6 separate regions of the Homo sapiens genome follow, and regions 1, 3, 4, 5 and 6 are each reported to be linked to region 2. Evidence: microRNA targets listed by miRTarBase, many of them from high-throughput screens and not tested one by one. Region 2 holds a microRNA gene; each other region holds the end of a gene's coding sequence.

What was found. Region 2 holds the annotated microRNA hsa-miR-10b-5p (UACCCUGUAGAACCGAAUUUGUG, at 1,489-1,511, opposite strand). A microRNA usually pairs through its seed, bases 2 to 8, with sites in the 3' UTR of a target mRNA and lowers its output. Matches are read on the target gene's strand: a 7mer-m8 pairs with bases 2 to 8, a 7mer-A1 pairs with bases 2 to 7 and ends in A, and an 8mer does both.
Region 1: the mRNA of ANKRD33B is a reported target of hsa-miR-10b-5p. Seed matches in the 3' UTR shown: 7mer-A1 at 2,425-2,431.
Region 3: the mRNA of IPCEF1 is a reported target of hsa-miR-10b-5p. The part of its 3' UTR that is shown has no 7-base or 8-base seed match.
Region 4: the mRNA of GLB1L3 is a reported target of hsa-miR-10b-5p. The part of its 3' UTR that is shown has no 7-base or 8-base seed match.
Region 5: miRTarBase lists CCDC8 as a target of hsa-miR-10b-5p. Seed matches in the 3' UTR shown: 7mer-m8 at 2,372-2,378.
Region 6: miRTarBase lists USP6 as a target of hsa-miR-10b-5p. The part of its 3' UTR that is shown has no 7-base or 8-base seed match.

What each region holds. Positions count from the first base shown.
Region 1 is chr5:10,649,093-10,652,856 of GRCh38, forward strand. ANKRD33B (ankyrin repeat domain 33B) reads left to right here. Exons shown (of 4, transcript NM_001164440.2): 4 at 174-3,764. The coding sequence ends at 1,021. Among named protein-coding and RNA genes, the nearest start is that of ANKRD33B, 87 kb to the left of the region's middle.
Region 2 is chr2:176,148,011-176,151,839 of GRCh38, reverse strand. It overlaps MIR10B (microRNA 10b), which reads right to left and starts at 1,537; the gene lies at 1,428-1,537. HOXD4 (homeobox D4) reads right to left here and starts at 290. Exons shown (of 2, transcript NM_014621.3): 1 at 1-290. The coding sequence starts at 206. RefSeq lists enhancers at 1-571, 3,100-3,643.
Region 3 is chr6:154,156,806-154,160,634 of GRCh38, forward strand. IPCEF1 (interaction protein for cytohesin exchange factors 1) reads right to left here. Exons shown (of 12, transcript NM_001130700.2): 12 at 1-3,235. The coding sequence ends at 3,023. It also overlaps a transcript of OPRM1 not described here. Among named protein-coding and RNA genes, the nearest start is that of OPRM1, 120 kb to the left of the region's middle.
Region 4 is chr11:134,318,060-134,321,888 of GRCh38, reverse strand. It overlaps GLB1L3 (galactosidase beta 1 like 3), which reads right to left. Exons shown (of 20, transcript NM_001080407.3): 19 at 3,142-3,258; 20 at 2,325-3,012. The coding sequence ends at 2,947. Among named protein-coding and RNA genes, the nearest start is that of GLB1L2, 12 kb to the left of the region's middle.
Region 5 is chr19:46,408,641-46,411,640 of GRCh38, forward strand. It overlaps CCDC8 (coiled-coil domain containing 8 subunit of 3M complex), which reads right to left. Exons shown (of 1, transcript NM_032040.5): 1 at 1,689-3,000. The coding sequence ends at 2,554. Among named protein-coding and RNA genes, the nearest start is that of CCDC8, 3.4 kb to the right of the region's middle. RefSeq lists an enhancer at 40-564.
Region 6 is chr17:5,172,058-5,175,886 of GRCh38, reverse strand. USP6 (ubiquitin specific peptidase 6) reads right to left here. Exons shown (of 38, transcript NM_001304284.2): 38 at 896-3,082. The coding sequence ends at 2,909. It also overlaps a transcript of ZNF594 not described here. Among named protein-coding and RNA genes, the nearest start is that of ZNF594, 18 kb to the left of the region's middle.

The DNA of each region.
Region 1 (3,764 bases), not on the chromosome of region 2:
TCCGGCGCTCAGATGAGCACAGGGTTCGCAGAGTGAACTAGGTGCAGTCTGTTAGGAGGCTTGGGGCCAGGGGTGGGGGGTGGGGGCAGTTTTGCCTTTGCCCCAGGCTCTGCCTGGGAGGGAAGAGTCCTTGTTGCCGCCACCCACTTCTGTTTGTGTTTTGCGTTTTGCAGGGGCGGATGTCCACGCGAGGGACCCCCGCCGTGGGATGTCGCCGCAGGAGTGGGCCACTTACACGGGCCGCGTGGATGCCGTCCGTCTCATGCAGAGGCTGCTGGAGCGCCCCTGCCCGGAGCAGTTCTGGGAGAAGTACCGGCCCGAGCTGCCGCCGCCCCCTGAAGCGGCGCGGAAGCCCGCGGGCTCCAAGAACTGCCTGCAGAGGCTCACAGACTGCGTGCTGTCCGTGCTGACGCCGCGCTCCGTGCGGGGCCCGGAGGACGGGGGCGTCCTGGACCACATGGTCCGGATGACCACGAGCCTCTACAGCCCCGCCGTGGCCATCGTGTGCCAGACCGTGTGCCCTGAGAGCCCTCCGAGCGTGGGGAAGAGGCGGCTGGCGGTGCAGGAGATCCTGGCGGCGCGGGCTGCACGGGGCCCCCAGGCGCAGGAGGAGGATGAGGTGGGGGGCGCGGGGCAGCGCGGGCGGACCGGACAGGAGGACGCGGACTCCCGGGAGGGCTCCCCGAGAGCCGGCCTCCCTCCCGCCCTGGGGTCCCGGGGCCCCGCAGCGCCCGCCCCGCGGAAGGCCAGCCTCCTGCCCCTGCAGCGCCTGCGGCGGAGAAGCGTGCGGCCCGGTGTGGTGGTGCCCCGGGTCCGAGTCAGCAAGGCGCCCGCGCCCACCTTCCAGCCCGAGCGGCCGGCGCGGAAGGGCAGCACCAAGGACAGCGGCCACCTGCAGATCCCCAAGTGGCGGTACAAGGAGGCCAAGGAGGAGAAGAGGAAGGCAGAGGAGGCCGAAAAGAAGCGCCAGGCCGAGGCGCAGAAGGAGAGGCGCACTGCGCCCTGGAAGAAGAGGACGTGAGGGCCCGTGTGCCTGGCGCTGGGGCCGGGGCTGGGGCCGGGGCGGGGCCGCAGGGCTGGGCGCGGAGAAGGAGGCGGCCCCGTTGCGCATCGCACCACTTCCGCTCCATGGACCACGGGGCTGCGCGCATTTCCAGGCTGTTTGTCCAGGCTGCTTCCAAGAGAGGGCTGAGGGAGCCACATGGATTCGCTTGTCGCCAGCCCTCCTAGCAATCAGTACACCTAGCGGGCACGTTGCCTAAAAGGCTCCCTTTAGAGAACCTCAATTAAGATTTTTTTTAAAGATCAATTTATCAAAGGGCGTTTTCTCCGTAATTTTGTATTTTTAATCATTATTTATCAAATTTGCAACGTTTTACAAGTGATAGGGCCCCTTATATCCAAGGCAGTTTTAATACACTTGCCTGAAGACCTTTTGTTTAAGATACTGTTTCTAGCAATAAGTATCCATGATACCTGTATGAGTTCACACAGACATCATGGGATTCTCCCCTTTTTGGCTGTTTGGTCTTTTCTCCTCATCGTGGGTGTAGGTGCACACTGGATGTTCTTAGTCATTAGATTAAGTGTTGCCGGATATTTCTATTTGACGGAGGCATTGGCTCGTTGAGCCACATGATCAAGTGAGACAGAGGATCAGATGTTACTGTATCTTTTTAAAACTCTTATCCATATAGTAATATATTGAGGAAAAACATATTGTCAAATTATAAAACAATGGAGCGATAAACATGTATTTATTGCTAGAATTAAACTCATTTTAAGCAAGGGGTTTTAGGTAAACTGGATACGAAATCTTTAACATTAAAAATAGATATGAGAAAAAAACTGTCATTCGATAAAATGAGGCAAATTTAATAATAAATGATTACCAGAAATACAAAATTAAGCCATATGTGCTCTTAAGTAATTCGAATCCAGATATCCTTAAAATGTCAAAAAGATGCAACAAGAGTCAGGAGCCCAGAATGACGCAAATTACAGGAATGGGGAGGAGGTGATTTTTAGAAGAGGTGAGAGAATGGAATGGGGAACAGACTTGTTTTCGGCAAATTCTCCTGGAGTAGACTGGGCAGCCCCCTCCTCCAGGCTCAGTTCCAAAGAGTCCGTTGTGTGGATATTTCTTTTATTTTTCCTTTGAGGACTGCGCTTGGTGTTTAGTTCATCCTTATGCCGACCTCTTAGAATTTCCAAGATGCAGGGCCTTGGGCAGGGCAGGGCATGGGTGTGATTTGCCTTGGGCCACAAGCTCTTGGTGAGAGTCTTATGTCCACACTTTTATCTCCAAAGTGACATGGAGATCACTTTTCTCAGTGATCAAATTTGAATTTATCAAAGGGGGTTTTCTGCATAATTTTGTATTTGTAATCATTATCAGATTTGCAGCATTCTAATTCGGCAGGGCAGGGTATGAAAGCTGGAAACTCAGGCTGGAGTTTCTAGTTCTAATGGCTCTCTGGCCATGTGGGTTGTAGAGTGTCTGTCACATATGCACTTTATTTCAGTATTAATTGAAATACTTGGACACGCACGATCACAGGCCTATTTGGAGGCTCTGTACTATGACCCTAATAACCCTAGATACATCATGATACATGGTGTCTGTCTCAGGATGCAGGCAGGGCTGGTGCAGGCTTCTCCATACTCCCTTCCACTTGGCACCAGCAGGCATCGAGCAACCAGGGATCTTAAACTGGCCTCTCCAAATACTCCATTGAACAGGACTGCAGGCTGCACCCAGGCTAATGGGAGATTGGTGTGTTGATGATACAGTGTTTAAGATGAGATTGCAGTGAGTTCCTCCTTAATCCCAGAAGGGCACCATGATGAATGCCACAGGAGACTGGACCCTCTTTGAGAACTGCAGATATTAGTTGACTGTGGGTCACCCTCGTGGCCAAGGAGTTGGGATTGGCCATGTCTTCTTCGAGGAGGTGGAGACTGTAACTGACACTGGTTATCTTTGGGGTTGTCTTTCCTGAATCCTTTGGCATGTGGCACCTTCCTGCCACATGTAGATAATTCACGGCATTACCAAGTCACCACGAGCCCCACCCTCACCTCTGTCAACCGAGGACCCAGCCAGGCAGTGCCATGTGGTCTCCCAGGCACGCTTCTCAACACCGGCTACCCCTGCTGTGAAGGTTCTCAAGGCCCTGGTCCGGGGAGCCAAGCCCTGGGAGCGCCCTAAAGCTCCGCAGGTAACTGCACTGCAGCCCGCATTGAGAACCGCAGCTCTAACACAGTGATTGCGAGAGGACACCCATTCTGAGCTCCCACAGAGGGCTCCACCTCCCCAAGAATGTCTCATTGTCATTGGAACAGCCAGGGTCAGGCAGCTTCTGCTCGGACTGACGTGGCGTCTGACCCTTGGTGGGTTGCCAGACATTCCTGCCTGTTTCCACCATGGGAAGCTGTCACTGGGAATGGTATGGAGCCCTCACTTCTACCCCAAGCCTGGGTGTCTGCTGCCTCCATGTCAAAAATGGACATTTCTGGTCCTGCCCAGCTGCTACCTCACCACAACCCATGCTCAGAGTTGTCAGGGATGCGTGGAACAGCAATGATGGGACAGCAAATGACTGGCAATTTCCCCAGGTCCCACGCTGTTCTGGAGTGGACGTGTTGCGGCCCTGCCCCCGATGTGTTCCAGCCTCATCCAGGTGCACAGGATACTCTGGGGCCAGCACAGGGATTGTCCAGTGATGCTCCTGGTGTCCACAAAACAGCTCTAGAGATACCTG
Region 2 (3,829 bases):
GGCCCGGGGCCGCTGCCTCCGAAAGGCTGCTCACCGAAGTCGGGCCGTGGGTAGAGCCCCGGGGGCTGGAAGTCTGCGCCCTGCGCGCCGCCGCCGTAGTAGTCGGCGCCCTGCTCGCCTAGGTAGCCGCCCTGCAAATACTCCTCGCACGGAGGGAACTTGGGGTCCACATACTTGGAGTTCACCATATACGAACTCATGACCATTAATTTCAGAAGGTAGAAAATACTAATTTTTCTCGTGTTGTCTTTTTTTCTCCTTCCATAGGGCCCTCCTACTTGCTGTCAACTGAATAAAGTTGGGCAGCCATGTGACCAGGCCAGCCAATGGCGAGGGAGCAAGTTTATCACCGGGTTGGTGAGCATCTCATAATTTTCACAAATTTAACTAAATAACATACGTGTAATCAAGTAGCTTGCTATGGCACATTTGAGAGCCCCTGCCAGATATTAATGTAGTTCCAGTCCCCAGCACCCCATTCCCCTCAGGTAATCCCAGCTTTTGTCTGCCACTGATTTTGCCAACCTTCCGTGGCCCTTCCACTCACCCCCAGCTGAATGCAACCCCCGCCCCCCGACACCAAGTAGGCACAGCTCAAGGGAGAATGAATCCTCCTATTGGGGTACAGAGCAATGAAAGGTGGGTGGGTGAACTCGCCTCTGAGTTGGGCAGAGTGCCCCAGGCGAGGAGGGTTCCTGCCTGCCCGCCCTGCCTGCAGCCGGCGGGAGCAGGGATTCTGCCATACAAAGGCCGCCGTCCTGGCTTTGTCTTCATCAGGGTCACCCAAAAGTTACCAGAATCTGGCCAGCTTGAATCAAATTAGGCAATGAGTAACCGCCATGCTTTCTACCAGTGCCCAGGCCCGGGGGTTCCCAGCCAAAGCTGGGCCCTGCCAAAATAGCAGGGGGCCCTCGCTGCCCTTGCCCATGTAGCTGGGGGTGGGCTGGGATGGTGGCAAGGGCACCTCCACCTTGTCAAAATGCACCCTAGAGCTCCCCACTGGGCTTCTTTGAAGCTTGCTTTCTTCCCACAGGCCCCAAATACAAGCAAGCCCCCATTTGGGTACCTTTGCACCTCATGTTCCTGGAGGGCAGAGCTGGGACTGGGCAAGCTGGCCTTGTACCTCACTCCCTAGTACCCCAAAACCTAGCCCTTTGGCCCTGCATCCATGCAACCAATTAGGCTTGCATTCTCTCTTTCTCTCTCTCTCTCTCTTTCTCTCTTTCTGTCTTTCTTTCTTTTCAGCACCCAGAGGATACTCTGTTTAAAGGTGAGGAGCTTCTGGAGAGGAAAAGCTGCTCTATGTCACCAGGCGCAGCTGATCCTCCTGGAGTCCAAGGTAATAAAACAGAACGAGGCGGCTGACCAGCGCCGGCTGCTTCTAGTCTCCATGTCGCACTTTGGTCTCTGGCTATTCCGAAGAAACGTGAAGTTTTTGCATCGACCATATATTCCCCTAGAATCGAATCTGTGACTATACGGATACCACACAAATTCGGTTCTACAGGGTATATATAGACAACGTTACAACCTCTGGGTCCCACCCAGAGTGAGGTACCTAGGTCGCTGCCGGCCCCAATCTCTTCCTCTGAGCCACCACCGTTCGACGCAGCCACCCGCACTTTCTGAGACAGTTCAGGTAGCCTAATGGGCTTGGCGACAATTTGAAGCAATGAGTTCCCTCATTCTTCTGCCAGGGTCAGGGTTACCAAGCAGGCGAACAACCAGAATATTCTTCTTAAGAAAGAAAAAAAGAAAGAAAGAAAGAAAAATAATCCATCCCAAGGATGGCGGCTTTATTAACCACCCTCCCCCACCAGGATCCAAATAACCCTCCTCCTTACCAAGTGGTATTTTCCAGAAAGGAACAAATGCCCTCAGCGGCAGAAGAAAAAGAAGCGAGAGGGGAATATCCTGTGTCTACTCCTTTTCCTACTGCCCGACCAAGCCAGGTTGTCTGCCAAAGCTACTTCTCCAAGAAGTCGCGCATTTACCTTCATGGGCCCTGATCCGGGCTGGCCTCTCCGTTCCGCTGCTGCTGCAGACCCCGAGGCAGGCGCTGCTCACAGGCACCGAGCCGCCTTGGGCTGAGGCCGGCGCGCTAATGGTGAAGGGCAGGGCGAGGGGTCATTCGAAATCATTTACAAACATATCACAAACTTTCATTATTTTTGCTTTGCCGACAGCAGCACACAAGAGTACAAAAGTTCACAAATTTCACCCGCCCCAGCGCCTCGGCACTGTGCAGTGCTTGTCCCTCAGTTCAGGGCATGGAGAGCGCAGACTCACTCAGAGCCTCGATGGATTTCAGGGGCACAGGGATGCCCTGGCTCGAGTGGGGCTTTTGGGTGCCTAACTGTAGGCTGAAGGTGTTAGATTTTTTTTTAACTGTCTTGATTGCCCTTCCTACCTCCCACATAATTCAAAATTTAGTTTCAAGCCTGGGCCTGGGCCTGGTGGGGTGGGGCAGGGATACTCCCCCTCCAAGCCTGGCACTTTGCTCATCCCCCCATCCTTTGCTTCCACCACTTTACCTGTTTCGTAGGGATTTTGGGGGCGCCAGTTCTAACAAGGGCTATGAGGCTGCAGAATCTGTTTATCCCAGGAGAGTCCCCCCAATTTCCCTGAATGCCAAAGACTCCCAAGTATCCACCTTCCTGGGACACTGGGCCTAGGCTCTATCCAGACAAATTGGGGGAGCCTGCTGAGCCGGCTGGAGACCGGGGTGAATATACACATTTTCATATTTGTTAGACGCTGTGACCTGCATTTCACCTTATTGCTCGACTTGTTCAGACAGGTCAAAGCCAACGAGTTATTGATGAACAAAAGCGTTAAATATTCACCTCCCGCTCAACTGCCCATACTAATGCTTTTGATCTCTAGGGCTTTTTGTGCTGTGTTCAGCTACAGGGCGCTGAATGTGGGTTTGCTAGCGAGAAGCTTCTGCAGAGATAAGCACCCAGAGCCAGTGCAGGGGAGGAGAGAAGCAAGACCAGAGGTCCCCAGGACACCAGATTTTCCAGACTGGAGCCCAGAGCCCCTTTCACTTGAGCCAGCCTGGTGTATAGGGGTAGTTGCTCTTCTAGGGGTGTGCACAGTCTACAAAGGGTCGACTAGACTGCCCAGCCCAGCGGGGCCAAAAAACCTGTCTCTGAGGCCAGCCCCAGCTTTTCCAACCAAGAAGGAGGGAGACTGGTTCCTGCAGCCCTCACATATTCCAACTCCCATTAAAATAAAATCACTTCCGTTTTGCAGTGAGGGAGGGGCCACAGTTCTTTCTGTGACTCTCCCTCCAATACCATCGTCTTAATGAGATGGTCCTCCAGGAGGCTTCACAGGCCTAATCAGAAATGTACCTGTCTTTCGCGGCACAGGCAACTCAGAAAGATCCAAACATCCAAGCCAAGGATCCCACGAGTCTCTGGCCCCACCCCACCGCATCCACCCCACTCCACCCTCCTATGCCTCCTTGCAGCACCAGCGCCTCTGGGGCGGAAATTCTCCAACTGCAGTTACAGAGAAGCAGAGGTGAAAAGAAGGTCCGTATCCCTCCTCGCTCAGCCAGTGTCCCAAGCCCAGGGCCCACACCGCTGCAAACAGATCGGGGGAGGGGCGGGGAAGGAATGTCCACATAAAGCTCAGAAGCGGGCAACTCAACACACCCACGGCCACAGAGGATTGAGTTTTTGTTTTCAGTGAATTTTTTTAAAAACAGAAGGTTGGCCAGGCTAGACCAGGTTAAGAAGGGTTGGGCTGCGGAGGGGACCGCATTGCCTTGGTGTTTACTGCGTTGGTTTGAAGCCGCTAATAAGACAGGCTGCTAATT
Region 3 (3,829 bases), not on the chromosome of region 2:
CAGTGAAGGCATCACATCAGGCTCCGTTCTGGATCTACAGGCTAACAACAGAGGGAAAAGGTCCTCTTCACAACCCCAAAGAGGAGTCCTCTCCAAATCCTAATCTTTAGCAGGTGCCACAGATTTGGATCTACGTGTGCTGAGAGATTCTCCACTTCCTTCCTGAGCAGCCATGGTTTTCTCTCTCATTCCACAGCTCACAGACACTGCAGGACTGGGTATAGGAATTGGCCCTTGGACCCCAGGAAACTACCCCAAATGCATTTCAGAGATGACCCGGTCTCAAGAAATATACTGAAAGTAATCCAGTTTTCCCAATATTCTTTGGACCAGAAAAGTGGCTTGAGGCCAAGAGAGAGAAGCCCATGTCTTCCTACATTAAGTGTCACGGAAAGTGTCACCCACTCTCCCTCTCACTCCTGTCTATCCCCCCACCCACGTCTTAGTGGCCACAGCCTAGGCTGAGAACTCACAGAAGCAGCCCTACTTTCTAGCACAACCTGGTCAAAAGCAAAATAATTTACAGGGGGAAAAACACGAATGAGCAGGCAATGGGGCTCCAGAAAGCCAGGTGCAAAATTGTGAAGTTCAGTTTCCCTTTCACTTTGGGAAGCTCTGCAAAGTAAGCTTTAACTAGCAAAGCAAAAACTTCTAGGCTAATGTTCTTGACTTTGAAAAATAAATTTAAGCCTTGGCTAAGTAATCCCAGGGATCTTTTTTGCCTTAAGTTTCAATGGTACTAAAGGAGTTTACAGTTGAAAGGCTGGGGAAATATGTCTTCACGAAAAGCCAAAGGAAAGCATTCAAAGCTATTCACAAACCCTGCTCAAAAGTGTCTGGAGCTCTTCAATTTAAGAAAAACTGGAAGTCTACAGGCTGGTGTTGCAAACCAAAGAAAAATAGGTGGAAGGGCACTTTATGTCACACTGTTATTTCTGCTATTGTTATTTGTTGTTCCTTCAATACTCTTTACATTGCCAATCCTAAATAATTTCCCTTCTGGTATCTGCTAATCACAGAAAGAATCAGTAATTTCCAGGGGCAAAAGGTTAAAGCACTGCTTTCCTAAACCAGGGCATCAGGGTGCAATCTGAGGATCTGAATGTTCTCTCTGTCAGGTCACCACAGGTCAAACTCATCTTCAGTGGCTTCCCTAGGTGGAGAAGTACCCACATGTTTGCTGGGCCAAACTGACTGGCCTGGCCTCTTATCTTAGAGAAGTTTCTAGCAGTACAACTTGCTTCTTGTTTTTTGTTTTTATTTCTTAATGCTAAGGTTGTTTTTTGTTTGTTTGTTTGTTTACAGAGTATTAAGGCTTCTTAGTAAAGCTTGGGGAACTATTCAACAACTATTTCCATTTTGTTTGCAGATATAATTCAGGTGGTTCCTTCCATTTGAATGTCAAGCCACACTTTGAAGCTATAAAACAAAATAGGTTGTGTGAACAATTTGTTACGGGTAGGCAGGGCCAACATGGGTACTTGGTGGGTTGTGGTTATTCCTATGGTGAGAAATATTCATGGTGATTAGTAAGGGAAGACTTTCATATTGTTTCTCTATAGCTCTCTTTAACACAATGATTTCTAAATTTCTATTAGTCTTTAATGAAAAGATGACATTAGTTGTGTTGCCTTTGGTCTAAGGTTTGCAGGCATAAATGGCACAAAGCTTAAAGTTTATTTAATAGAAAGGATAATCTAAGATGAAAGTCCTTTGCTGGTTAAAAGAGTGACTTACAAGAGATAGAAATCTAAATTTAAGAGCTCATGGGGGTTGGGGTGGGGAAGAAAATGAAAAATTATGAATGCATGCCCCATTTTTTTCCCACAAGATTTCCTGAGCATTCCTCAGACACAGTGCAACATCATAACACCAGTGAATCAATAGTATTTCTATTTTTCTCAAGCAAAAAGTATAGACTCATCAAATATATACTAAGCACAATATATAATAGTATATCATCTTTTAAACACTAGTAATTTGAACTTCTATAAATATATTTAAATAACAAACATAGCTATTCACATAGCACACAAGTGACATATAAACATACAAAAATAAATCCCTCATGTTTAACTCTTTTGTTGCTTCCATGGGTTTTTGTTTTTTTGTTTTTTTGAGTAAAGATATTAAAACAATTCAGATGCCAAAGTCGTCTTGTCAATATTGATCCTGGGAAACCTGGATATAAATTCACACTATGTATAGGGATCACAGCCAAGGACAAGAGCAGTAGACATTCTTTGCGGAACATATTCCTATCTCCTACCATTGAGTAGGAAAGCTCAAAGGAAGTAGAGGTCTCCAATTGTGATGAGATGTTTTCTCTAGCTGTTGTAAGGAAAGGAAACATTAATCAGATCCCCTAACCTGCATAAAGTGTGAAAACACCAAGCTGTCCTTTGAATGAGTGGAATATGGAACACGCCTCCTCCTTCAGCTCTCCCACATGCCACTGTCTATGAAGCATTTCTCATCACATGGAAAAGGCACCACCATTCCATACCAAAGGCAAGGAATTTTTGTTCTGCAACACCACGTTTGTCCTTCCAGTCACTGCTCTAGAAAACATTCCTCCACTCAAACAGTGATTTGGGCCACACAGCTTCCCAGTCAAGTGGAATATGTACATTCTTCTTTTGAAAAACAGAATGTTTCCATGGGCAATTACTCCTGGTAAAATTTGATTCTTGTCCATAGCATTCTCTGGAGAGCAATGAACAGAAGAGACATTTCTCACATCCCCCCTAGAGCCCCACATCACCGTGAGCTCCCAGTAGGAACACAAAAAACGCCTTTCAACTGAACTCAATCATTCCAATCTCAATGGATGCGTTACGACTGAAATGAGGAGCCCTGGTGTATTCGGTGATTATCTTCATCTAACGTGCATCTTTAGATGGGAAGCTGATGCTTGAAGGACTGGGTTTCAGTTTTCCTTTTAAGGAAAAATGTAAGCTTTTGCAACATCTTGAAGAGTTGCTTGTGATAAAATATAAGAGGAGAAAACCCTGACTTTGTCTCAAATGGAATTTTCAACAGAGGGAGAAGAAGGTGATTTCTTGAGTTCCTGGGGGGTGTCATCAGTGTCATCAGGGGCAGGCGAAGCCCGCTGCTGCTGATAGATGTCCTGGATCAGCAGGGTGTTCATGACTTTCCACTCTCTGTATTTCCTGGCTGTCAGCTTCGGGTCATCCAGCAACTGGTTAATCATGGCCAGATCATGTTCTTTACACTGTGTGAGTAGAAAAAAAGGGGAAGGGGGTATGTTGAGAGTGTCTTAATTTACATAAACCATCTTTACCAACTCTTTTACAAGTACACATATACATAAAATTACCAAAGCATTTTTGCACGTTAATGTTCTAATTCCAGCATTAAGCTTAAGAAATACGACATTTGTTTGCATACGCTAGCCGCAAAGAAGTGAAGTATCCTACCCAAGAGTTAGTGGAAGAGCTAGACATATAGCAAAGATCTTCTATGTTGCCTTTCCCTGATCAATCCATTATTCCACACCACAGTAACAATTCTACCTTGGTGTGGGAATCATGCCTCCTAAAACTTACCATTGTAGGTATTAGCATTTTATTGACAATCCAAACTTCACTAAGTAAAATTGGAACGTAACACTTTACCTAGGACATATGGCAACATAAAATATGTCTTTTAAGATTTTATTAAATTATCTTTATTTTTAATAAATCACATTTATTTAATACAGAATAAATACACAGATTATCTTTTCAGTCAAAGAAGAGGCTACTAACCTTCCATCAAAACAGTATGTATTCCAATAATGCTAATAAACAACCTATTGGTGCTATTC
Region 4 (3,829 bases), not on the chromosome of region 2:
ACAACGTGCAGGTTTGTTACATATGTATACATGTGCCATGTTGGTGTGCGGCACCCATTAACTCCTCATTTACATTAGGTGTATGTCCTAATGCTATCCCTCCCAACTCCCCCCACCCCATGACAGGCCCCAGTGTGTGATGTTCCCCTTCCTGTGTCCATGTGTTCTCATTGTTCAATTCCCACCTATGAGTGAGAACATGCAGGGTCTGGTTTTCTGTCCTTGCGATAGTTTGCTGAGAATGATGGTTTCCAGCTTCATCCATGTCCCTACAAAGGACATGAACTCCTCCTTTTTTATGGCTGCATAGTATTCCATGGAGTATATGTGCCATATTTTCTTAATCCAGTCTATCATTGATAGACATTTGGGTTGGTTCCAAGTCTTTGCTACTGTGAATAGTGCCACAATAAACATACGTGTGCATGTGTCTTTATAGCAGCATGATTTATACTTGTACTTATTTTTCTACTTCTTTATCTTCTACTATCTTTTGTCTTTTATTGGTTAGAGGATTTTGTTTGTTTGTTTTTTCTTACTCTATTTATCCTCCTAATTTTTTTAGAAAGTTAAAAGCTCTATGTATATTCTTTAAACATTAAGCTTAGTTTATTAACTAGGAATATTCAACAAAGTCTAAAGTTAATATCTGAGAATTACAGAAATCTTAGATCACTTTTTGGCCATCACATCCCTCTCGCTTTACACAGTGTTTTTGCCTGGTCTTAGAGTTTTATGCTGATGCTACCTCAAGTTAGACATTGGCTCTATTTCTATGGAGTTAACGTTTGTCCATATTCACTCTCACATATGTCAGCATCCTTCTTGGATTCCACGTTCTTTCTTAAAAGTCAGACTTTCCATCTGCTCGTGGCATATCTTTTAGAAATTTCTTCTCAACTGTGGTTCCCTGAGAGCGTGAAGATGTAATGCCCCAAGACATCCACAGTATGTAATGAGTTAACGTCTCTAATATGCATCCAGATGATATAATGAGAAACTAGTCACTGAAGACACTTTCTGCAGTGTTTAATTCTCTTATGGGACATTGAGAAAGGCCGCTACAGAACATCATTTAGTGGGGATCTTTTGATGATAACTCTCTTGGTTTTTGTTTGTCAGAAAGTTCTATATTTTGTTTTTTTTTTTTGTTTTTCTTGTAAAATAGTTTTGCTGGGTAAAGAATTCTAAGTTGTGAGCTCTTTTTCTCTAAGTGCACTGAAAGCATTATATCTTCTGAATAGCATTTTTGCATTCATATTTGGAAAAGACTGGCATACGTGTGGAACTAAGGTAGTAGCGAAAGAGGAGGTGCCAATCAGAGAGACATGATTTCAAATACCTCTTTGAACCTTGGTTTCTCATCTGTAAAATGGATATGTTGCATGGTTGTTGTTAAGTTTAGATGTTGCAGATGTTACACCTGAAATATAATATGTACTCAAGATCATTATGATTATTAGTTCTGCTTCCCTCCTTTACATTGCAGTTTCTATAGAGTTCATAGGTTTGAGGCTAGATCCCCAGAGAATAAAGTTTTATGTAGAATTGTGGAGGTATCTCACAGAAGTTTCCTCCATTGAAATAGTCATTCAGACTAGTGGGAGAGAAGATAATCTGACATCTTTATCTTCATTCCAATCCAAACAGAGGGTTCTCTTCCCTCTGGACACAAGATTACTTACTAAATTACTTGAAAGCCCTAGGCACTATATTTAACAGGGTGATAAGATTTGCTTATAGTGCATTGGTTTGAATTTAGGCCAAGTGCTGTGTTTTGTATATAAGAAAGTGCTTGGTTCCCAATGGTGCCATTTTTTTCAAATGGCTCCACTGGCTTTTCATAGTGGTTGGAATATTCATGTGTGTGTGGCTAATCTCACTAATGCCTACCCACTATCAGTAGTAGCCTTGACTATAGCCAGATAGACAGGGAGTAAGAAGACACAGAGAACCCTGCGCTAGCTTTGTTGTCACACGTGTCTGAAGCAAATGACCAAATTTCTGTTCCTTCTCTGATTAGATGTGACATGCAGGGTCACCTTGTAGACACATAGTTGAAGGGAAATGAAAGACATTGTTCATTGCCCTCTCCTTTCCCCTACTCCTACATACACACACACACATGCACGCGCGCGCGCACACACACACACACACACACACATACACAGAGAGAGAGAGAGAGAGAGAGAGAGAGGAGGGAGACCGTGAGTTTGCCCATTAGTACATGCAATACTCTCTCTGGCATGAGGAAATCAGTATCCTTACTCTTCCCCAGGCTTCAGACCTTTCCCTTCCCTTCAATTGAGTATGGGAGGCAGAAATGAAACTTGTTTTTATTTTATTCACATCTACTCAAAGGCACGTTTAATTAAAGAATAAGAGCCTGCTAAGGATTAAGCATTTAACTAGATAAATCAGTCATTAAAGATTTTGAAGACTTTTTAAAGCCTAAAAATAGGCATCATATAGATAGACTACAAAATACATAACAATTCCTCTGCTGTTTTGTTGTTGTTGTTATTTTCACATTTTTGCTATTGTAGGCAACACTGTGTTTGATAGTCTTAACATAAATCTTATTCCTCAAAAATGACTTATAGATGAACTCCAGCAACCCAAAAAATATGTTCACGGCCGGGAGTGGTGGCTCACGCCTGTAATCCCAGTACTTTGGGAGGCTGAGGAGAGCAGATCACAAGGTCAGGAGATTGGGACCATCCTGGCTAACTTGGTGAAACCCCATCTCTACTAAAAATACAAAAAATTAGCCAGGCGTGGTGGCGTGCACCTGTAGTCCCAGCTGCTGGGGAGGCTGAGGCAGGAGAATGGCGTGAACCCGAGAGGCTGAGCTTGCAGTGAGCAGAGATTGTGCCACTGCACTCCAGCCTGGGCGACAAAGTGAGACTCCATCTCAAAAAAAAAAAAAAATGTTCAGACACAGTTTTACAGCGTGGGCTTGTCTGTAGATTTGATATCTGAGCCACTCATCATCTTCTCAAACAAGATGACCTGAGAAGAAAAGAAAGGTTGACAGTGGGAAAGGTGAAGCCTATTTAGTACAGGTTGAAAAAGACACTGCAACTCACATTTTGATCTGAAAGTTTATGAGATCTCAAGGCAGAGACTGGAGTGACATACCTCATTGTCTTCTGGATGAAGCCAAACTCCAGGAAGGTACAGTGTTTTCTGAGGCCCAATATTCCAATATCGCCCAAGGTTACGTCCATTGATGAACACAAATCCATAATTCCAGTTCTGAAAGGAATGGTGGCTTGAGATTTGGAAATTGGTTCACATTAGCAAGGTAAAACCTAAGGCACTTGGAGAGTGAGAGCAAGATTGAGATACTTTATGGCACTCAAATGAAGGTGAGTTTAGAGTGGGATATGTTATAGAACTTCTACCTTGCTGTCTAGGAATGAAAGAGAAAAGCATAAATAGAACCAACCCTTTAATGGTAAGGCTGCTATTGTTCCTGTTATGTGATATATAATGTTATATATTTTAAAAAGCAGATCTTCTACTTCCAGAAATAAATATCAGGTAATAGTGATGAACACCACTGCTGACAGTGGCTATTAATATAAAAGCTGCACATTTTTAAAAATCTGCTTGCAATATAATGAAGAATTACAGGATCAAGATCTAGAAGAAGAAAATGGAGAGACAAGGAGACATCTAGGCAGTTTTTCCACTAGAGGCACCTGCTTATTCTGGGATATAACAAAACAGTCTAGCACATAAAATTGGAGTCTCTGAAATGCTTCAAATTAAAGGGCAAAGGTTGCTGGTCTTGATTTCAAATAAAGTAGTTATATGCTACATA
Region 5 (3,000 bases), not on the chromosome of region 2:
GCCTGTCTTCCTCCGCGCACCTGCAAAGCCTCCCCTCCAGGTGAGGTCCACAGCTTGTATTTCTTCCAAACCTCCCAGGGCCTCGTTCTTGCTGTGAGCCGTGGACTACACGGCCAAGTATCCACCAGCATGCACAAAGCGGCTCTAGCAAGGCCATGCGGCGCGCCAGGCAGCAAGCAGCACCAGCAGTAACCACTCCACTCAGAAAAGAGCAGGGGTGGGGCGCGGTGGCTCACTCCCATAGTCCCAGAGCTGAGGCCAGAGGATCGCTTGATCCCAAGAGTGCAAGTGAGCCGTGATTGCAACACCACACTCCAGCCTGGGTGACAGAGCCAGACCCTGTCTTGAAAGAAAGAAAAGAGTAAAGAAAAGAGAGAAAGAGAAAGGAAAGAAAGCAAGAGAGAGAGAGAAAGAGAGAGGGAGGGAGGGAGGAAGAAAGAAAGAGGGAAGGAAGGAAGGAAGGAAAGGAGGGAGGGTGGGAGGGGGAAGGGGAGGGAGAGGGAGAGGGGAGGGAGAGAGGGAGAGGGGAGGGGAGTGGAGGGAGAGAGGGAGAGGGGAGGGGAGTGGAGGGAGAGAGGGAGAGGGGAGGGGAGGGAGGGAAGGGGAGGGGAGGGAGGGAAGGAGGGAGGAGGGTGGAAGAGAGAAAAACAAAAGGAGGGTGGTGGGATAGAATTCTTTACTTTCCTGAGGAAAAAAATAAGAAACTTAGGCCAGGCCTGCAACCAGTTAGGAAGACAGACTGGCCTTTGGACCTCCACGAACTCTCTTTTCTCCTGCCCTCAGCAAGGCTAGAGTGTGGTCATTTGCTGTTTTTCACTGCTAGGGGTTGTGGGGACACAAGGCAATACAGGCCCCCAGCTTCCTCCTAACCTCCACAGGGCTTTAGCAACCCAGTTTCTTCCCAATTATAGGAAGCAGTTGGCCGCGTGCAGTGGCTCATGCCTGTAATCCCAGCACTTTGGGAAGCAGAGGTGGGCAGATCAGCTGAGGTTAGGAGTTCAAGACAAGCTTGGCCAATATGGTGAAACCTCATCTCTACTAAAAATACAAAAATTAGCCAGGTGTGGTGGCACACACCTGTAGTCCCAGCTATTCGGGAGGCTGAGGGAGGAGAATCGCTTGAACCAGGGAGGCGGAGATGGCAGTGAGCCGAGATCGTGCCACTGCACTCCAGCCTGGGAGACAGAGAGTGAGATTCCATCTCCAAAAAGAAAAAAAAAAATGCAGCAGCAATTAATGCACAATACACACAGCCTCTTTTTTTTTTTTTTTTTTTTTTTTTTTTTGAGACAGAGTCTCACTGTGTCACTAGGCTGGAGTGCAATGGCACAATCTCGGCTCACTGCAACCTCCACCTCCTGGGTTCAAGAGATTCTCTTGCCTCAGCCTCCAGAGTAGCTGGGACTACAGGCGTGCGCCACAAGGCCAGTCTAATTTTTGTATTTTTATTAGAGACGGGGTTTCACCACGTTGGCCAGGATGGTCTCGATCTCTTGACCTCGTGATCCACCCGCCTTGGCCTCCCTAAGTGCTGGGATTACAGGCGTGAGCCACCATGCCCGGCCAACCACAGCCCCTCTTTTGGGCCTTTTCCTATTGCAATGATTTTTCAATGTGTCCAGTGGCCGAGTTGCCCAGATGTCCGTGGAGCTTGATGCAAACAGAATTCAGAGCCACACAGGCACCGCTAGCAAATCCACACCTCTGGTGCCGAGGGCCCCAGAATCTGTGTTTTGAATGCATTTTTCAGACGCTTTTACTGTACCTTATAACCAAGATCGGGTGAGGTGTGCAAACCAAGGGCCCTGTCCCCTCCAAACCAGCAGAGCCCGGGGCATGAGGATGGCAAGCGAAGTGACAACATAAACACAGGTGTCTCCATCATCAAGGATGGGAGTGGAACGGACAGCAAGGGCCAGGTCACCCCCAGAGCATTCGTCAGTTGTCAAGTCCAAAGCTAAGAAATCAGTTCATAAATGTTTTTTGATTTGCATGTTGGCTCAACTCTTTTTAAGTCCAAGGAGGCAGTCCACATTAAGTGTGCAGGCAAAAAAGAGATGGAAAAAGGAGTCAGTTTCTCCCCTGCCCTCCCTCTCTCCCTTTATCAAGCTGAGCACCTTGAGTTGCATTTGAGGAAATGAAAACTATAGGTGACGCAACCCCATTGTGTCGAATTCTTTCTTTACATTTTTTGGGTTGCTACAAGGAATCAGTATTTTTTTTTTTTAATCAGATGGTGTGTGTGGTGGCTCACATCTGTAATCCCAGCATTTTGGGAGGCCGAGGCAGGAGGATCACTTGAGGCCAGAAGTTTGAGGCTGCAGTGAGTTATGATCATGCCACTGCACTCCAGCCTGGGCAACAGAGTGAGACCCTGTCTCTAAAAAATTTAAAAAAAAATCAAAGCATGAACAAAACTTTAACAAGAGAATAAAGAGGGTTGTTAGGTGGAGACGTGGCCAGCACTCCACCTCCACTTTGAAGTTCAGAGGCAGAGCATCTCTCCCTCCCACACTTGGAGGGAGGGCCCGTGGGCTGTCTCTAGCCCTCACCTCACAGCTGGTCTTCTTGCTCTCCCTGCTCAGCTTCTGCTCTGGCCTCGGCCCTCAGCACCCTGAGGTTCCTGGCCTCTCCTGCCCTGGGGACTCTCTTGGGCAGGGTTGGCAACCGGGGAGTGTGCCAGAAGGCTCTCCGGCGCTTGCAAAACCACGAAAAGCGTCCAGGGGTCTGGAACCTCACTGTCTTGACCTGTTTCCGGGCCCTGGCTCCTGGAGCTGTTCCTGTGGTCCCTTGGGCAGCTGAGACTTCAGCTTCCTGGATACCTGGGGCCCCTGCCCTCTGATTATGTGCAGCCTCTGCCCTCTGGCCAGCCCGGGCCTGTGCCCTCTGATTATCTGCACCCTGGACAGCTGGGGCCCTTTCCCTCTGGTCATGTACGGCCTCTTCCCTTTGATTATCTGTAACCTCTGACCCCTGGTCAGCTGGGGCCTCCGCCCTCTG
Region 6 (3,829 bases), not on the chromosome of region 2:
TATTTTAACTTTATAGGTGAACAAATAGAAGCTGAGGGTGAAGGACCTACAGCTGTCACCTTCATCTCTTCTCAACACTGCCAGATGTCTCCTTGGATCTCCCAGACAGACAACAAGGGGCATCTCTGGTTTCTCGGTGCCCGCTAGAAACCTAGGGTCATTTCAAGGCATTATGCAAATGAGAAGCTTTCCTTCTCTTCACCTCATCTCCTGATCTGCACAAAAATGACTGTAGGACCCACTGTAGGTACCAATGTAGGCACCAATCCTCAGTTTACCACCTGCTCTCTACTTGCTTCCCTGCCATAACTTTCTAAAAGGGATGTGAGCCATGTTTAAAGTCACCTGGTCACTGGAGAGATCTTGTTCTACCCTCTACATCAGTGGTTGCCAACCTTTTTGGCACCAGGGATGGGTGTTGTGGAAGACAATTTTTCCACGGACTGGGGGGATGGGGGGAATGGTTTCAGGATAAAACTGTTCCACCTCAAATCATCAGGCATTAGATTCTCATAAGGAGCACACAACCTAGATTGCTAGCATGCGCAGTTCACAATAGGGTTCTTTCTCCTGTGAGAATGGCGTGCCGCTGCTGATCTAACAGGAGGCAGAGCTCAGGCGGTAATGGGAGCAAGGGGGAGCGGCTATAAATACAGCTCGCCACTCACCTCCTGCTGTGCAGCCCGGTTCCTAACAGGCCATGGACAGTACTGGTCTGTAGCCCAGGAGTTGGGGAATCCTGCTCTACAGAGTTTCCAACCTCAGAGATGAAGCATCCCCTCTGTATACAAGTCAGAAAGAAATTATTCAAGTAGGAGAATTAAAACAGGATCACAGAGAGGGAGGCTGAAGAATTTGACTTTCTGTGTTTACTTGTATGAGGAAAAACAGCACATAGAGGCAACCACAGTATTTAATTTGTTTGGATAATAGTTAACAGATAAACAGGTACACCCCATATACAATTACCAATACTTTTGATACAGTTCATATTTCAGTACATCAACACTATTTTATTTACACTCTATTTATGTACATTAACATCTTTCTAAAGTCAGTGCATTGTCAACAAGTTTTATACAGTAATTTACAAGGTGAATGTAGTTAATAGTTAATTTAATAAATTTTCCGCTAGTTCATGAATTAAAAAAATTAATTACAACCAGTATAACACAAATCACACAACATTAGTAGATTGTGCTACCTGTTTAAATAAAACATCTGTAAAGAAATTATTTAAAATCTTCCACTTTTTAATGGGACATGTCCAGGTAGGAATGGACAGATTTTATTTACTGAAAATCTTGAAACTATAAAGTGTGCATTTTGTCTGACTTTATTACATTAGACAATTTAGGCCACTCCTACCTACTTGCAATTATATTTTTTCTGAAAAGGATTTCAATTTAGGTAGCCATTTAAGATAACCTTTCCAAATGCTCTGAGAACTAGATATTAATAGTTACTGGCCTCAGATATCAGAACACAAATGCTTAGTTACATTGGTAATTACTACCTATGAGGAAGAAAGGGTAATGGAATCTGGCAATGAGAATCAACTTGCAGGGTCTAAATGAATAAACAAAGACCAAAAATAAGGTGAAACATTTCCTTCAAGTATATATTAAGAAACTACATGAAAAAAATTCTACCTCAAATAAATAATATTTATACTTTTGTTCCAATCTTAAATAATTAGAGGGAAAAAATGAAGTAAGCAAAGAAACATAACTTTCAATGACTACTGTAAAATTTAAAAAAAGACAAATATCAAAATAAAAAAACCAGTGGACATGCAAACAAAGCAAAACTAAAGTTGACTTCCTAAAACCACCAATTTCATTAAATATACTTATGAACTCCTAATGTCTGGGATGTGTTTTGTTTGTAATTTATAGCCCTTAGAGCCATCAAATACACACAAGCAAGTTCATTTGCATGTGTTCTCTCTTTTTTAAAGTGCAAAACAAACACAGAAAAGAATAACCACTAATTGTGAAACGTGATCTAGCTCCGATGCCGCTTACCTTCCCAGAAGCTCTTGTTGCAACATGTGCATGTGAAGATGGTGCAAATATTGGCAACTGCTCCCCTTCCCTCAGCATGGGCGGGGCCGGGGGTGCAGAATACATTTCTGAGGATACTTGAAGTAGCCTAAATGTAAGATGCCTCCACTGGGAGGGCCCTGGTAGCTGGATTTCCCAGGATGTTTTTCTTTCTACTGGGTCTCCCTCTGGTTGGAAGGCACATAGCTCTTAAGAGAGCCTCCCTTTCAGACTGACCACTCTATGCCCCTGCCACCAATGACTGGTTGTGTCTCAAACGTAAACACAATGGCAAAAACAAAAAGCAAGAAAAAGAAAGGGTATGGAAACAGTTTAAAAAATAAATTGAAAAATCCTTGTCCATGCCGTAAGAATCATTTGCACACCTTCATGATCTTGCTTTCTCCATCTTGTCAATATAATGGAATAAAACTTCAGGAAAAAGGAGGTAGCGTATCATGTCGTCCCTAGACAACATTATAATTGTTTGTTTTTTCCTCTGACTCCAAGGAAATCTTTAATATTTGTTATGATTATTGGTAAACTCTATACTCACTACATATTTGTTCATATCTGGACAAGCACAATTCAATTCTTATTTGGTCCCAGGTGGCTGGTGCCACACCTTTTGTTTACAGGCTAATGGTGGGATCTGCCTGAAAGTTCTCTATCAGACAGCTTGTATGAGACTTCAAAATACAATTGTTTCTACTCTTCAAGTTAACTATTTTAATTAGAATTTTTGTTCTAACAGGATAAAATAACTACATTTAGCTTGTCTTTCAGTGACACTTTTGCCAAGTATCAGCTACAAGGAGTCATCTCCCTCGCCACCAAGCTGTCTAGCAGCCAGAGTGGTAGCTTTACTGTAACATAGAGTACTTTTCGTAATCAGACTCAGAGTCTTCATCCGTACTGCTTGTGTCTGCCATCTTTTTGCCATCAATCTTTGGCAGAAATTGTGCGTAGTCTATCCCCTGCTGCTCATAGAAAAGAATGTAGGCAGAGTCGGTGTCAATTTCATCAGGGTGAAGTTCCTGAAAGGGCAAGAAAAACCTTTAACAAAAAGCCATCACTATTATGACTCTAAATCCTTGCCAGGAAAGGGAAGACCAACCCTCTGTAATTACTAACCTGATTGCTTCCAATAAGCTCACTAGTTTGGCTGTCTCACACCTGCCCCTTTAAAATGAGCCCCATTATTTCCAATGTTTGCTTTGGGGAAAATATTTTGACCATAGACAAGTCAAAACAGAATGACCTAAAACCCCATCAAATTCTAATTATTTATTTTGTATGTATTTATTTTTTTGAGATGGAGTCTCGCTCTGTCACCAGGCTGGTGTGCACTGGTGCAATCTCAGCTCACTGCAACCTCTGCCTCCCGGGTTCAAGCGATTCTCCTGCCTCAGCCTCCCGAGCAGCTGGGACTACAGGCATGTGCCACCACATCTGGCTAATTTTTTGTAGTTTTAGTAGAGATGGGGTTTCACCATATTAGCCAGGATGGCCTCTATCTCCTGACCTCATGATCCGCCCACCTTGGCCTCCCAAAGTGCTGGGATTATAGGCATGAGCCACCGCGCTCGGCCCAACCCCATCAAATTCTAACAGTCTAGAAGATAGGAGCTTTTTGCATTAACTAACTACTTTTTTTTTTTTTTTTTGAGACAGAGCCTTGCTCTGTTGCTCGGGCTGGAGTGCAGTGGTGCAGTCTTGGCTCACTGCAACCTTCACCTCCCAGGTTCAAGCCATTCTCCTGCCTCAGCCTCCCGAGTAGCTGG